Homo sapiens: one gene and its partners. The protein of the gene in region 2 interacts with the protein of the main gene of each other region in a biochemical or structural test. Each region holds a gene or a part of one and is shown on either strand. Other genes may lie near its edges.

Evidence for each region.
Region 1: the proteins of EZR (region 2) and SELL form a complex in vitro, tested with the Homo sapiens proteins (one study listed by BioGRID).
Region 3: the proteins of EZR (region 2) and ICAM3 form a complex in vitro, tested with the Homo sapiens proteins (2 studies listed by BioGRID).
Region 4: the proteins of EZR (region 2) and SDC2 form a complex in vitro, tested with the Homo sapiens proteins (one study listed by BioGRID).

What each region holds. Positions count from the first base shown.
Region 1 is NC_000001.11:169,701,621-169,705,120, forward strand, and holds part of SELL (L-selectin precursor), read right to left. Parts: intron 3,134-3,500; coding exon 2,948-3,133; intron 1,821-2,947; coding exon 1,635-1,820; intron 69-1,634; coding exon 1-68. UniProt on the Homo sapiens protein: Calcium-dependent lectin that mediates cell adhesion by binding to glycoproteins on neighboring cells. Mediates the adherence of lymphocytes to endothelial cells of high endothelial venules in peripheral lymph nodes.
Region 2 is NC_000006.12:158,777,869-158,781,368, forward strand, and holds part of EZR (ezrin), read right to left. Parts: intron 1-3,500. UniProt on the Homo sapiens protein: Probably involved in connections of major cytoskeletal structures to the plasma membrane. In epithelial cells, required for the formation of microvilli and membrane ruffles on the apical pole. Along with PLEKHG6, required for normal macropinocytosis.
Region 3 is NC_000019.10:10,336,825-10,340,792, forward strand, and holds the start of ICAM3 (intercellular adhesion molecule 3 isoform 1 precursor), read right to left. Parts: upstream 2,801-3,968; 5' UTR 2,791-2,800; coding exon 2,715-2,790; intron 2,422-2,714; exon of another isoform or gene 2,125-2,421; coding exon 1,858-2,124; intron 1-1,857. UniProt on the Homo sapiens protein: ICAM proteins are ligands for the leukocyte adhesion protein LFA-1 (integrin alpha-L/beta-2). ICAM3 is also a ligand for integrin alpha-D/beta-2. In association with integrin alpha-L/beta-2, contributes to apoptotic neutrophil phagocytosis by macrophages.
Region 4 is NC_000008.11:96,601,813-96,605,312, forward strand, and holds part of SDC2 (syndecan-2 precursor), read left to right. Parts: intron 1-582; coding exon 583-716; intron 717-3,500. UniProt on the Homo sapiens protein: Cell surface proteoglycan which regulates dendritic arbor morphogenesis.

The DNA of each region.
Region 1 (3,500 bases), on a different chromosome or scaffold from region 2:
GACTGCCACTGGAATGAAGAGGGGGTTATAATCACCCTCCTTAATCATTGAGAAACTTTTGTCCAATTCTGAAAGAGAAATCAGTAAGGCACATAGCATGAGACCACCAGCATTATTTCCTTAGTCTATCTCATGATATTTGACTTTTTTCCTCCTTACATCTCCCAGTAGTAGCCCATTTGATGCCATTTGACAGATGAGGAAACTGGCATGGGAAGGCCCCTGATGAGTCTACAGCATAGGCAAAGACTGGACCAGCCTTGCTAGTCTAATGCCTACAGAATCTCAATGCCCAGATTTGTGGTTCATAGAGTTCCTGAAAATGCACCTAAAAATGTTGGCAAGAATGGTCATCGTTGTATTTAGCTCCATGGACTTGTTCAATGACTGGAACTCTGAAACACAGAGAAGAGCTAAAAGCCTAATACAACTTCAGGAAAAATAAAAGCCAATGATCTGAACTGGATAATTCACCAGTCAAAGGAAATCATTAATGCTTTTACTTTAAAGCAGTTGTGCAAAAATAAGCACTTGATTTTTACATGCCAAGGACCTGCACTAATTTCTTTCCAATGCAGTAGTTACCACTTCCCTCTACTTCCTTCACGAATAAGTAAAAGGGCATGTTTAGAGATACTCTTGTAAGTGTAAACTAAGTTCATTTGGGAGCCTCTATTTGAAAATACTGGTATAAAAAAAAATCTGTCTCCTGATACTAACATTTGAAGGAATCTACTTTTTTACATATTGGCAGAGGGTCTGATTCTATCCTTAGTTCTTCCCATTACTTTGATGAACCTTTTCAAGGTGATTTGATCCCCACACCCAAATATATGATTGAGAGAAGGCTCAAGTTCCCAGGAGCTCCAGACAGAAGGTACCTGTTGGCTTGATGAAGATGAGGAGGAAATGAACACTAGCTAGGCCTTAAAGGGAAATGTCTCTGATAGGCCTAATACACAGTCCTCTGCTAAAGGCCTCCCTGCCTCTCTCTGCTCATCCACTCTACTCCCTGGCCCTGGGCACGCAGCACACAGAGATCAGCATTTCTGACAGCTTCTGTAGATCCTACCATTTAAAGACTTTTGTCATCCATGCAGATAGTCTCAGGAGCAGACACAGGTAGCTATTCTTTCACATGCTAGCTTAACATGCATTTGCTTTAGCACCTATTGCCAGGCACTGTGTCAGGTGGAGGGTATACAAAGATGAACAAGACATGATTCTTCTCATATACAGATAGATTTTGGAGGCATTAGCTTAGTGATGATTCAGGAGTATCCATTATTTGGGGAAGTAGGTGGTCATTAGTGACCTTTTACAGGCATTTCAATGGGCTAACAGAGATGTTAGATTGTAGTGGAATAGAAGAATGGGTAAAAAGTAAATCAGTGAGTTCAGATTTTAGGAGTTAAGATGGCAAGAGGTGAGAACAAAAAAAGGAAATGATTGTCATTAAAGGAGGAGGAAAGACCAGCCAAAGATTTTACAGTGAGTTAAGCATACAAATTTATTTCTAGGCCACATATTCTTAGCAAAACAACATGTAAATGTTTATGTATGTCTTTCCTCATATCTGCTCATCCATCAGCTCCATCGTTAAGATTTCAGTTTTCCAGGACAAACTTACTCACTTTGACATATTGGACTAGGATTTGACCAGATTCCAGATGATTCACAAATGGTTTTCTTCTTCCCAATTAACTCAGTTCCTTCTGAGCAGATGAAGGTACATGCAGAGGTAAAGCTGAAGCTGGCCAGGGGATGGCTACAGTTCATGATCCCCAAATCTGGTGCTGATAGAGGCTCACACTGAATCACTTCAATGAAAAAGAAAAAAAAAAAAAAGACAAAACAGTATTTCTGAGTAGAGACCCTCCCTTGAGCAAAGGATTTTTAGCCAAAGCTGCCTGACTACATTACTTGTGATATTGCTTCCAGGCTTTATTTTCTTGAGAATGATGGTGGGTGGTGAATGAGAGATGAAGGCAAGGAAGCATTGAAAGCTGTGGGGAGAGGAGTAGCTACTCCAGGCTGCTGCCCTAGCTAAGGTGACCCTCCCCTTCTGCTGGAAGTACCATGCCATATGGCCTCTGCATCAAGGGCTCTTATGGGATATTCTCAGAGAATCTCTGCCGTTTCATCTGTTCTGATATCTACCCAAGCATTTTGAAAAACATCCCAATTCACTGAAGCAAGTCCAACTTCCGTAAATTCCAGTAGGTGGGTTGACAGTTTTATAATTTCAATAAGGGATTTTGATAGCACTTCTAAGAATTAAACTACTTAAACTAATGCATCAGGAGCATACTTGTAGAAAAGTTAACCAAAACTTCGTAAGTTCAGATGACATTGGTTTTCTCCCATATGGAGATAAGGTTGGCAGTTAAAAATGAAAAAAAAAAAAAAACCTACCTTATTTCAAACTTGAAAAGATCAAGAGATTGTGTTTTTGTTTTTCAGTTGTTATTCTCCTAAAAGTTTATGCATGAGGAAAAGTAAAAGTGATTTTAAGAATAAGCCAAATAAAACAACCAAGAAAGACCTCCACTACCCTGGGAAGGAAACTGGTTGGTATTAAGTAGGACACCACATAAAACAGGTGTTATTGAGAGGAGAAGAACCAAAATGTAACTGAGGTTCAACAAGACATTATTTATGCAATGGCAATGAGAAAAATAAAAAACACAGTATAACCATGCTGTATTGCTATAAGTCATGTTACACACTGGGAGATGGCTTCAGGGGTATTTGGTTTTTACTTTTTGTTTGGGAGGTTTTTCAAAAAAATTTAGTTAGAATAAGTCCTTTGAGAAACATCACAGTAGGTTAAACAAAGTTAGGTTAAATTAGGCTCCTAAGTTTGACTTCTCAGCAAACTTCTACTGAATGTTCTGACTGTAAGCCCAGGATTGCATGACAAAACCTCTAGTCTGAAGTTACTCACCTTGACAGGTTGGTTCTGGAGATGACCAGTTTCCAAATGGTCCACAGGTGGTTTCTTCAATCCCAGTTAAGTTTGTTCCTTCAGAGCAGCTGAAGGCACACTGTGAGCTGAAGCTGAAGTTTCCCAAAGGGTGAGTACAGTCCATGGTACCCAGCTCTGGGGCCTCCAAAGGCTCACACTGAATCACTTCAATAGGGAAAGAAACAGTATGGGGAAGAGTTAAGAGGAACTGACGCCTGGATTTGAATCCTAGCCCTGCCACTTGATAACCATGTGCCTTTAAACAAGGTTACTTGAACCCTCCAACTTCAGTTTCTTCATCTATATAAGAGGAATAATGAAATTGTGTTATCTTTATCAAATTGATATGGAAACTAAATGTAATTCAATTAGCATAAGTCAAGGACCTTAGAACAAAGCCTGACTCATCAGAAATTCTAAGTAAACATTAGCTAGTCTTCATATTATTATCTTCAGCATTATCTGTAGTGAGAATCCTTAAAGCCAAATAGGTGTAACTGGGAATGACCAGCTTAGTCGGGAAATAACTATC
Region 2 (3,500 bases):
TCCTTTCTTTTACAGTGCTATGCTCTAGAATCACCAATCCCCATTAAAAAAAAACACACCTGGCATTCAAACAGACATGCAATGAGTTTGTTCTTTTATCTTCGAGATGTAATTTTCTTTACAGGTTTCAGAGCATTAAAGGGGAACTCCAGATACCACCTTGCCCTGCTACTGACTTCAGCCTATGTCCTCCTTACATTGAAAGGCTGTGAAAGTGGCACCAGGTAGGCATGTGTTGCTTCTGGAGCACTTTCTCCCAAAACACAAGAGCAGCCTGCTGGCACCAACAGAGAAGCTAGGATCCAAGCTCCGGAGGCTCCGCCCACAGCACATAGCACTGTGAGCCAGCGTGCCGCATCCTGAAACTTCAAGGGGCTGGGATCCCCTCTCCGGCTCCTGTCTCTACACAGGACTCTCAAAACAGGTTCTGACCTTAGAAAATTTAGGCCTCCGGCTCTCTGGTGTGCCTAGAAAGTTTTTCCTCTTAGGACTTTGAAACCTCATATAACAATTCATAGCCACTCATAAGCATAACTGCAGTATCAAAACAAAAAGGTTAAACATGAAAATTATGACTCACTTTTGAGTTAAAGAACTTTTAATTCTTGACCAAAGTTGGAAAATTAAAGCCCAAGGATTTCCTTTTTCCTAAGAGATCACATATAGGACATGAACAGGGTCTACAGAGAAGGTGGCCACAGGGTTTATAAGTGTCCTTGCTTAGGCCACACATTAAAAAAGCGTGATTCTCCAATAACAGGGACCAGACAGAGGCCTTTGGAGAAATGGCTGATTCCAGGACTAGAACAGGGAACACAAAGGATGAACCTGGTGCATCTCGAGGAGCCAGGCAGCAAGGAAGCCTGCAAAGAATGCAGGGCTCACACTTCAAGGTGCTCCTAAAGGCCAAATCTCAAACAACCTGAGCAAGAAGATACATACTCATAGATCATAACCCAAAGACCGAAACACATATCCATGAGTCCATATTAATATAACTGAATAAATGGAGAACAGAAATTGGCTCCTTATAGAATTCCAATTAATACACGTAAAAAGTTTTTAAAAATCACAATTTCTCAAATACCACAGTAATCTCATCAATGGTAGCTAGAACTAGGACATCTACATAGTTTAAAATTATCTCCCCCAAATATACTGACCAATTGTAAAGGGAAGGATAGTGATTTTACAGTGGAGAAACGTGGCAGACACCACCTTAACTAATAATCAAAATTAGCACCACCTAAGATAAGATATACCGACCACATGTGCCACCTTGAAAGAGGTCCTGGAAGGGCAAAACAGCACTTTATTCTTACCAAAAATGTAAAACTCCAAATAATGAGAAAACACCAGACAATCCAAGCTGAAGGGCTTTCCAAAGTCAATGGCCAGTACTCTTCAAAAATACCAAGGTCATGACAAAAAAAGACTGGAACTATCCCACATCGAAGGAGACAGGGAGGTCTGACAACTAACTGTGTGGCTCCAGAGAGGGTCCCGGGGCAGAAATAGGACATCAGTGAGACAACTGATTAAAATGGGAATGAGGTCTAGAGACTGCTAATGTTAATTTTCTTATCTTGGTATTTGGACTACGGTTACATAAGGTGTTAATGTTTGAGGAAGCTAAGTGAAGGGTATATGGGAATTATTTGTACTATTTTTAGAATCTTTTTAAAGTTTGAAATAATATATATATTTTAAATTGAGATGGGGTCTTACTCTGTCACCCAGGCTAGAGTGCAGTGGCACAATCTTGGCTCACTGCAGCCTCCGCCTCCCGGGCTCAAGTGATCCTCCCACCTCAGCCTCCCAAGTAGCTAGGACCACAGGCATGCACCACCACGCCCAGCTAATTTTTTGTACTTTTGGTGGAGACGGGGTTTTGCCATGTTGGCAAAGACCAGCCCAGGCTGGTCTTGAACTCCTGAGCTCAAGGGATCTACCTGTTTTAGCCTCCCAAAGTGCTGGGATTACAGGTATGAGCCACCATGCCCAGCCTGAAATGACTTTAAAATGCAAGAATGGGCCAGGCATGGTGGCTTACACCTGTATCCCAGCACTTTGGGAAGCCAAGGTGGGCAGATCATTTGAGGTCAGGAGTTTGAGACCAGCCTGGCCAACACAGTGAAACCCCATCTCTACTAAAAATACAAAAATTAGCCAGGAGTGGTGGCATGTGCCTGTAATCCTGGCTACTCGGGAGGCTGAGGCAGGAGAACCGCTTGAACCCAGGAGGCAGAGGTTACAGTGAGCTGAGAATGTGCCATTGCACTCCACCCTGGGTGACACAGTGAGATTCCATATCAAAAAAAAAAAAAAAACCAAGAATGATTAAAAAATGTAAATCCAAAATATGTAGCTGAGTGTGATAATGTTCTACATGTCTTAAGATTTTGCATTTTTCAGGCATATTTGTCAGAACTCAACAAATGAACACTTAAGATTACATTTCATTGTATTTAAATTTTACATCAAAAGAACAAAACATAACCAACCTCTAGTATATCATATGCACTTTCATTTTGAGGAAGGATATGGATGCCTGCAGTTTTCTTGGAAATGTGTTAGAGGGCCAGAGGGTGACAGTGGAGTGCATACGGAAAGAGACGTGAGAAAGCAAGCGAAGCCCTGAGTACCTATCCGCAAGGAATTTAAAGAAGAGACATGTTCTGTGGCTCCTGTTTCAGTCCCCAAGCTCCCCGTGCACCCTTTCCCTTTAAGGTGGAAGCCCTGGACCTAGTGCATTTCCAGAAACTCCTACCTACAGAAGGACTTCTATGATGAAATCTGCCCAAAGAGGGATGAAGCTAAGGGAGAAAAAGTGCTTTTACAGGACTAAAGATCAGGTTCCTCTAGTTTTTGTTAGTTTTTGTTTTTGGTCCGAGTGTCAGGTTTCAAATTGTAACCCAGCTAAACTGAACTTCCTCTGTTCACAAGCTTACAATGCCTGTCAGGAGGGCGCTTACCTGTTTTTGCCCTCTTTATACTCCCACCTATTCCAAGCTAAGGGTTTAAAGAAAGATGACAAATAGTCCTACATGCTCCCACTTAATGCTTATGTGTACAATGAAAAGGGAACCCCAAGAGACAGATTTCCCAGCCAGACCCTATTTAATACTAAAACAGGTGTTTTAATAGAGACTTTACTTGCAGAGTATAAATCTCTTAGAGCTCAATTTCCATATTCAATAGATCAGCTTTCTCACCTGAACAATGTTTCAGGCATATCTAATTCTCCTAGTTCTACCGAGAGAGGTAACAGCGCAACAGCTGGCGAGTTCTCAGCACTCCTCAGACTTCAGGACAGTCTCCTGCTTATGCTGCTACCAAGTTGTCAATATTTGTTCAAAAGGGAAAGAATTTGGGCCTATTAAATGACTGAATATCTACATAAATGCTTTTTTCATGAAGAGAGGGGTGTGCCTTCAGGAATGGGGAGAAGAGAGGCAGAAAGTGAGCCTGCCCAACACCCCAGCATGCTCTGTGGGGAA
Region 3 (3,968 bases), on a different chromosome or scaffold from region 2:
AAAGGCTGGGCAAGGTGACTCATGCCTGTAATCCCACCACTTTGGGAGGCCGAGGGAGGCGGATCACTTGAGGTCAGGAGTTTGAGACCAACCTGGCCCATATGGCAAAACCCTGTCTCTACTAAAAATACAAAAATTAGCCGGGCATGGTGTCACACGCCTGTAATCCCAGCTACTAAGGAGGCTAAGACAGGAGAATCACTTGAACCCAGGAGGCGGAGGTTGCAATGAGCTGACATCGCGCCATTGTACTCCAGCATGGGGGACAATAGCAAGACTGCGTCTCAAAGAAAAGAAAAGTCAAAAAGTAGGCCAGGCATGGTGGCTCACGCTTATAATCCCAGCACTTTGGGAGGCCAAGGCGGGCAGATCATTTGAGGCCAGGAGTTTGAGACCAGCCTGGGCAACATGGTGAAATCCTGTCCCTACTAAAAATACAAAAATTAGCTGGGCGTGTTGGCATGCGCCTGTAATCCCAGCTACTCAGGAGGCTGAGGCAGGAGAATCGCTTGAACCCGGAAGGCAGAGGTTGCAGTGAGCCAAGATTGCGCCACTGCACTCTAGCCTGGGGGACAGAGTGAGACTCTGTCTCAAAAAAAAAAAAAAAGAAAAGAAAAGAAAAAAAAAAGTAGCCAGGCCTGCAATCCCAGCTACTGGAGAGACTGAAGTGGGAGGATTGCCTGAGCCCAGGAGTTTGAGACCAACCTAGGCAACATAGGGAGATCCTGTCTCTAAAATAAAGGTATAAAAAAGTGTAAATGTAAAACCTCCATTTGCCTACTGCTGACTGAAAGGGGTACCCCCTTTTTTGCTTAAGAGACAAGGGTCTTGCTTTTTTGCACAGGCTGGAGTGCAGTGGTGCAATTATAGCTCACTACAGCCTTGAACTCCTGGGCTCAAGCGATTCTCCCACCTTGGTCCCCCAAGTAGCTGGGACTTCAGGCATGTGCCACCATGCCCAGCTAATATTTTTTATTTATTTTTGTAGAGACGGGGTGTCCCTATATTGCTCTGCCTGGTCTTAAATTTCCGGACTCAAGCAATCCTCCTGCCTTGGCCTCCCAAAGTGTTGGGATTATTGTTGGGGCCAGGCGCAGTGGCTCACACTTGTAATCCCAGCACTTTGAGAGGCTGATGTGGGCGGAACACCCCGTCTCTACTAAAAATACAAAACTTAGCTGGGCATTAGCTGGACCTGGGAGGCAGAGGTCGCAGTGAGCCGAGATTGCACCACTGCACTCCAGCCTGGGCTACAGAGTAAGAGACGCCATCTCAAAAAAAAAAAAAAGCTTGTTGGGGCCGGGCGCAGTGGCCCATGCCTGTAATCCCAGCACTTTGGGAGGCTGAGGTGGGCGGATCGCCTGAGGTCAGGAGTTCAAGACCAGACTGGCCAACATGGTGAAATGCCATCTCAACTAAAAATACAAAATTTGCTGGGTGTGGTGGCGTGCATGTGTAATCTCAGCCACTCGGGAGGCTGAGGCAGGAGAATCACTTGAACCCAGGAGGCGAAGGTTGCAGTGAGCCGACATCGTGCCACTGCACTCCAGCCTAGGCAAAAAGAGCGAAACTCTGTCTCAAAAAAAAAAAAAAAATGCTTGTTGGGGCCCAAGTTAATTGATTTCACAACTGCTGCCTTGGCATGAGATTGAGATGCGTCTCTATATCTCTGTCTCTGTCTCTGTGTCTCTGTCTCTGTCTATCTTTGTATCTCACACACAAATGTCCAGGTCTGAGCTCTGGGTCAGAACTGTGGTCCATTCTTTGCAAACTGAGGGTCCCCACTCTCCTGAGCCATTGGCCACTTGCCCACACCACTACCCAAGACCAGTCCCACCTCCGGACACGTCGACTCACTGTACACGGTGATGTTAGAGGAGCCTGTTATCTGAGAGCCATTGCAGTACACTGAGCAGAGGATCCGACTGTTGCCAGTCACGTTGCTGAGATTGAAGGCTGCCCAGCCCATGCCACTGGCCACCAGCTCCTTTGATAGGGACGTCTCCAAGGCGATTTTCTCAGAGCTGGGACAATCAGTACTGCAGTTCACAAACAGGGACCCTCCAGCAGAGAGCACAGGGTTCTGGGGCTCCACCCGCAAAAGGAACTCCTGCCCCTGGACACCTTCAGGAACATGAAGAAGTCCTGGTGTTTGTTTCCTTGTCCCCCAACCCACGCATCAACAGGCCCCACCATTTAACACCTCTCTCCTTGTGCCGAGACAGAAGGGTTCCTGCCTTCATGGTCCAGTGGGAAAGGTAGAATCCATCAGAGACCGGGGAGAACTCAGAAGGAGGCCAGAAGAGGCTCTGATCCAGCATAGGAGGAGGTGAGTCAGGGAAGGCTTCCTGGAAGCGGGGACCATTGCAGCCCGAAACTGAAGGCTAAGTAGGAGTTAGCAAGTGAAAGGGACAGGTGATCCTGGCAGAGGGAAGCACATACGCAAAGGGCAAATTTCAGGAGTTCAGATGGAGCAGGAAGCATGAGGGGTGTGTGTGTGTGTGTTAGGGGAGAGGGATGGCGTACAAGCCTATGCTGGGGCCTGACCACCTGAAGGCTGAACTAAGGAACCAGAACTTTCTCCCGAGGATACAGAGTCAGCGGCCAGGTCGCAGTGTGGCAGGATGTGAACAGCGTTGCGTTCTATTCCTCTACCCTCTACTGATCCCCAAAACGCAGCCCTCTCCAGCCCTCCCCGGCTTGACTGGTCTCACCTGGGGTCAGCAGACAGCAGACCAGCAGAGTCCAGCAGGCCCTGGGCCACAACACGGATGGTACCATGGTGGCCATTCTGACAGAGGAAGGTGCCTTCCTGAGGTGCCCGAAGGGCAGGCAGGGGAAAAGGCGGGGCCTCCCACTGCGACGGAAGCACAGCGGTTAAGATTGCAGAAGTCTGGGGACTGCACCTTGCCCAGGCCTGTGGGTGGAAGGGGATGCTGTGGCCCTTGGGGGCCAGGGTGGGGGACCCAGACGGGGCTCTGCAAAGTGGCCAGCACTGCTGAGTCTCCCCCAGGGAATGGGCTGGTCCCAGTTGCACTGCTGGCCCCCATTTGAATTCACAGGAAATGCTAACTAAACTGGTTTCTTTTGTTCTCAGCACTGGGAAGCCTGGGTGGGGGGGATGAGGCATCTCCTTCTGGCTGAACTTAGGTGGGTAGGGGAATATTCTGTCCCCAGAGAGGAAGTTAATGGGGAAAACTGTAGGCACCATTGTGTAGATGTTAAGGTGGGATTTCGAGGAAACATTAAAAAACAAAAACAAAAACAGAAACAGAAGCAGAGTCTTGCTATGTTGCCCCGACTGGTCTTGAACTCCTGGCCTTAAGATGGCCTCCTCTCATCTTGACCTCCCAAAGTGTTGCGATTACAGGCGTGAGCCACCACGCCTGGCCACCTTTGAAGATCTTGAGGATACCTCCCTATCTTTGAAGATCTTGGGGATCCCCCATCCCCTGCACAAAGAGCTAAGGTAGGTGATTTGGGGACAGCTGAGTCCCTGAGCCACTGTCTATCCAGGATTCTACTTGGTTTTTGTTTGTTTGTTTTGAGACAGAGTCTCACTCTGTCACCCAGGTTGGAGTGCAGTGGCGGGATCTCGGCTCACTGCAGCCTCTGCCTCCCGGGTTCAAACGATTTTCCTGCCTCAGCCTCCCGAGTAGCTGGGATTACAGGCATGTGCCACCACGCCCGGCTAATTTTTGTACTTTTTGGTAGAGACGGGGTTTCACCATGTTGGCCAAGCTGGTCTCAAACTTCTGACCTCAAGTGAGCTGCCCGCCTTGGCCTCCCAAAGTGTTGGGATTACAGGCGTGAGCCACTGCGCCCGGCCTTCCAGGATTCTACTTGTAACTGGCCTTTACCCCATCCTGTTGTCCCCTTGCCCACCCTTCCAGGCAGCTGGTCACTGCATTCCAAGGGAAGGCGCCAAGGGGACCAGGTGGGACCCCCACCTTTGACCTGCCTCTGAC
Region 4 (3,500 bases), on a different chromosome or scaffold from region 2:
GCAATGGTGTGACCTCTGCTCACTGCAACCTCCACCTCCAGGTTCAAGTGATTCTCCTGCCTCAGCCTCCCGAGTAGCTGGGATTACAGGCGTGCGCCGCCACGCCCAGCTAAATTTTTGAATTTTTAGTAGAGATGAGGTTTCACCATATAGGCCAGGCTGGTCTCGATCTCCTGACCTCGTGATCCGCTCTCCTCGGCCTCCCAAAGTGCTGAAATTACAGGCGTGAGCCCCTGCACCTGGACTGTTGTGTTCTTAAAATGGAAATGGAGCACGTTTCAGTGTAGATGGGAAAAAATCTTGTCAAGCAGGGAGAAAAGGAACATGCAAGTGAAAGAAGGGCTACTTGAATGTTCAGGATAATACTATTAAGGAAAAACTTGCTAGACTACCCACAGACACCTTTGAAATCACTTCTTCATCATGGTGAAGACCACAGGAAGCTTTGTGCTGAAGTCTTAAAGAGCCAGCATTTTGAAAGAACATGATTCTGTCAGTGTCAACGTCAGGCAATAGTGCCTGATAATGGAGACATCTGTGTCATGATTGCCATGCTCAGTTCATCTTCACTTACTTTTCCAGGAGCTGATGAGGATGTAGAGAGTCCAGAGCTGACAACATCTCGACCACTTCCAAAGATACTGTTGACTAGTGCTGCTCCAAAAGTGGAAACCACGACGCTGAATATACAGAACAAGATACCTGCTCAGACAAAGGTGCGTTCTATTTTCCATTGCATTGCATTATCAGGTTATTACAAATGCTTCACTTTACTGACTGTACACAACAGTCCCTTTTGTATTATTTTCTTCTTTTTGGAGCTACCCATCATGAACTATGTACACAACAGTTCTTTTAAAAGACCCCACTTAAAATTGTGTAAGGACAAATGGTCTTCAGGTGGTGTTATAAATGGCTCTTCCTTACTCTTTTTGATCATTTTGGCATTTACCCACTTATAATCTCTGTCATCCAGGCTCAAATTATATACAACTATTTTTCACATGGCCCTCCTTCTTAAGGAACGTCTGAAGCCCAGTTAAGAAGTAAAGCCCTGTTTCTTTGGTTTCCTGGTTTGTAGGTTACGTAATTAGAAGACTCCAGGTCACGTCTTGAGGTGGTCCTAGTCTCACTAAGTCATTTCTCAGTCTTCCTAGGCCGACCATCAGTACTATGTAATCCTTGACCTCTCTCGATGATGATGAACCTGGGTACATCTGTATATATTCATTTTGAGAGCTGACTTATTAAGAATAAGGTCTTTGGCCTTAGACCTGAGTAAAGTGACCAGCTAATGAAAACTTGGAGCTTGTGATTTTGACCTCGTTAATATTGCAGTTAGCTGACCATCCACTAATAGGTAACCCACTGAAGTTAGAACATGCATATTAAAGTCTGGCAAAGACCTAAGTTTCAAATCCTGGATCCAGTCAGGTTTCTTAGCTTCTGAACCCATTTCCTATGGGCCTTGAAGAAGATGAAATGTGAGTGCATGTAGCATGGCACCTGAGACCTAGTCACCATTCTGTAAGCATTAATTGAATTGGTGGAGCAGAAGAGACCAAGCCAATTCACCAAATGAGCATGTGTAATAACTGTAGTGGTAGACTTTGCAATCAGTGCAGGGGTAACATATGGCTTAAGAAAACTCAGAAGCACAAGCATCCCCTTTTAGAGCTCACCCATCTGTTGATTAGAAATGAGATGCTGCCAAGCTTTAGCAGCAGACAGGGTATGGATATGGAAGGCTGTTTGATGAAGGTGGCGACAGGCCTTCCTTGGAGTAAGAATCATCCCGTCTTCAGGCCAGAATGCATGTGGGCTTTTCTTACCCTTGCCCCAGAGTACCTTTGTTCTTCCTCCTCCTCCATCCTCCCAGTGCCTGTGACTGGAATGGTGAATGGCACCGCTGGATGGGTTTCTGCAGATGTGGAACAGCCAGGAAGCCAGCCCTGTCCAAATTGAAGTGCTTTCTGTAGGACCAAGAAGGGTCAATTACTATTAGTGGTAGACTTCACAAGCCAGGCGGTAGGAAGGCAGGGAGAGCCCTATGAGAACTGAGACCGACTCACCTGGCATGTGCTGGATCCATGCATAAAAGCTACTGTATCAATGTTTCAGTTGAGTGAATGAAACAAAAAAAGAAAGGGAGAAATGAAAAGTGCAGGTGCAATTGGTGGTACGATGACTGCCTCAGAGTGTGTGTGGCACAATTAGCTACTATTTACTAAAGATGCATTTGGCTCTTACCACATTTTTATTTGACCACTTCTCTTGACTAAATCTGCTGAAGTCAGAGACAATTAGGACTCACTAGCTTGAGGGAAGCAACTCTCCTGGGTGAGTTTTGGCTTGTAGTGATAGAGAGTTCTATCCTAAGCAAGACTTAATTTGACATAGAGTTCTGTCTGGTTTGTTAACAGCAATGGATTGACCACTAATTTAAGTTTTTAAAAATTGGTTTTAAGGAAGTAATTGCATCAGATCGAGATAAAAAATGTAGAACTTTGGCAGGTGAATTTAAAAATTAAGGAGCCCAAAAGATTTTAATACATTTATATTCTTACTATCATTTGTGTTCAATATAGTAATAGTAGAAATTCATCCATTTATAGGAGATTTGTTGAGTGCTATTCATTATGTGTCGAACACTGTTTGCAGCACTGATAATGATAATATTGATCATGAATAACATGAATAATAATGATTAAATTTTTCATTTTGCTGTTTATGTGGTACAGCCGAATTGAACATTGCCTCTAGGATACCATTAGTGTAGATTTTGCTTTTCAATTGGTCTCACAGTGGCATTAATGTCACTGTTACGGATATCCTATCTAGTTTGTTGTAAATTTAAGTGACTAAAATGCACAAAAGGGAATCTCGTTATTTGTTTGAGAAGAGCATCACTCATAAGCTTTTACTTCTGTTGCATTTCCATGGCATCCAAACAACCAGACATGGATGTGGCAGATCTTTACTTGGCCTCATTTAATCATCCCTGCTGTCTTTTTGCGGATTCATTTTGCACATACATTCATACAAGAGTGAAGGTATTTCAGATTAGTTCCATATTACCAAATGGTATCTTCTTAGTCAAGCCTTTGCTTCCATACGATAAAACATTTTGACTTAAAAAATGAATTTTCCACCCAGAGCCGCTTGAGGCTTGTGCACCTCCAGCTGCAGGGCGGCTCCAGTTCTGTGGAGTCCTTCAGTTCCCACACTCTCAGATCCCTGGATTGCACGCTTTGTTCAGCCTGCCGGATCAGAGGCTGAGTCAGAGGAAACTGAAAAGATCAACTCTCTTAAATGACTTTAGGGACTCAATCACATGGTGAAACCATATGATTTGTAATAATAATGGGACAAAGATGATATGGATATGGATGAATTAAACTCAGTCTCTCATATTACAGTAACTACTTAGGTCCATTTCATTTCTCACCAGAACTTGTTTACCTCTCTCCCTAGTCACAAACCTGAGTATTCACCTATTT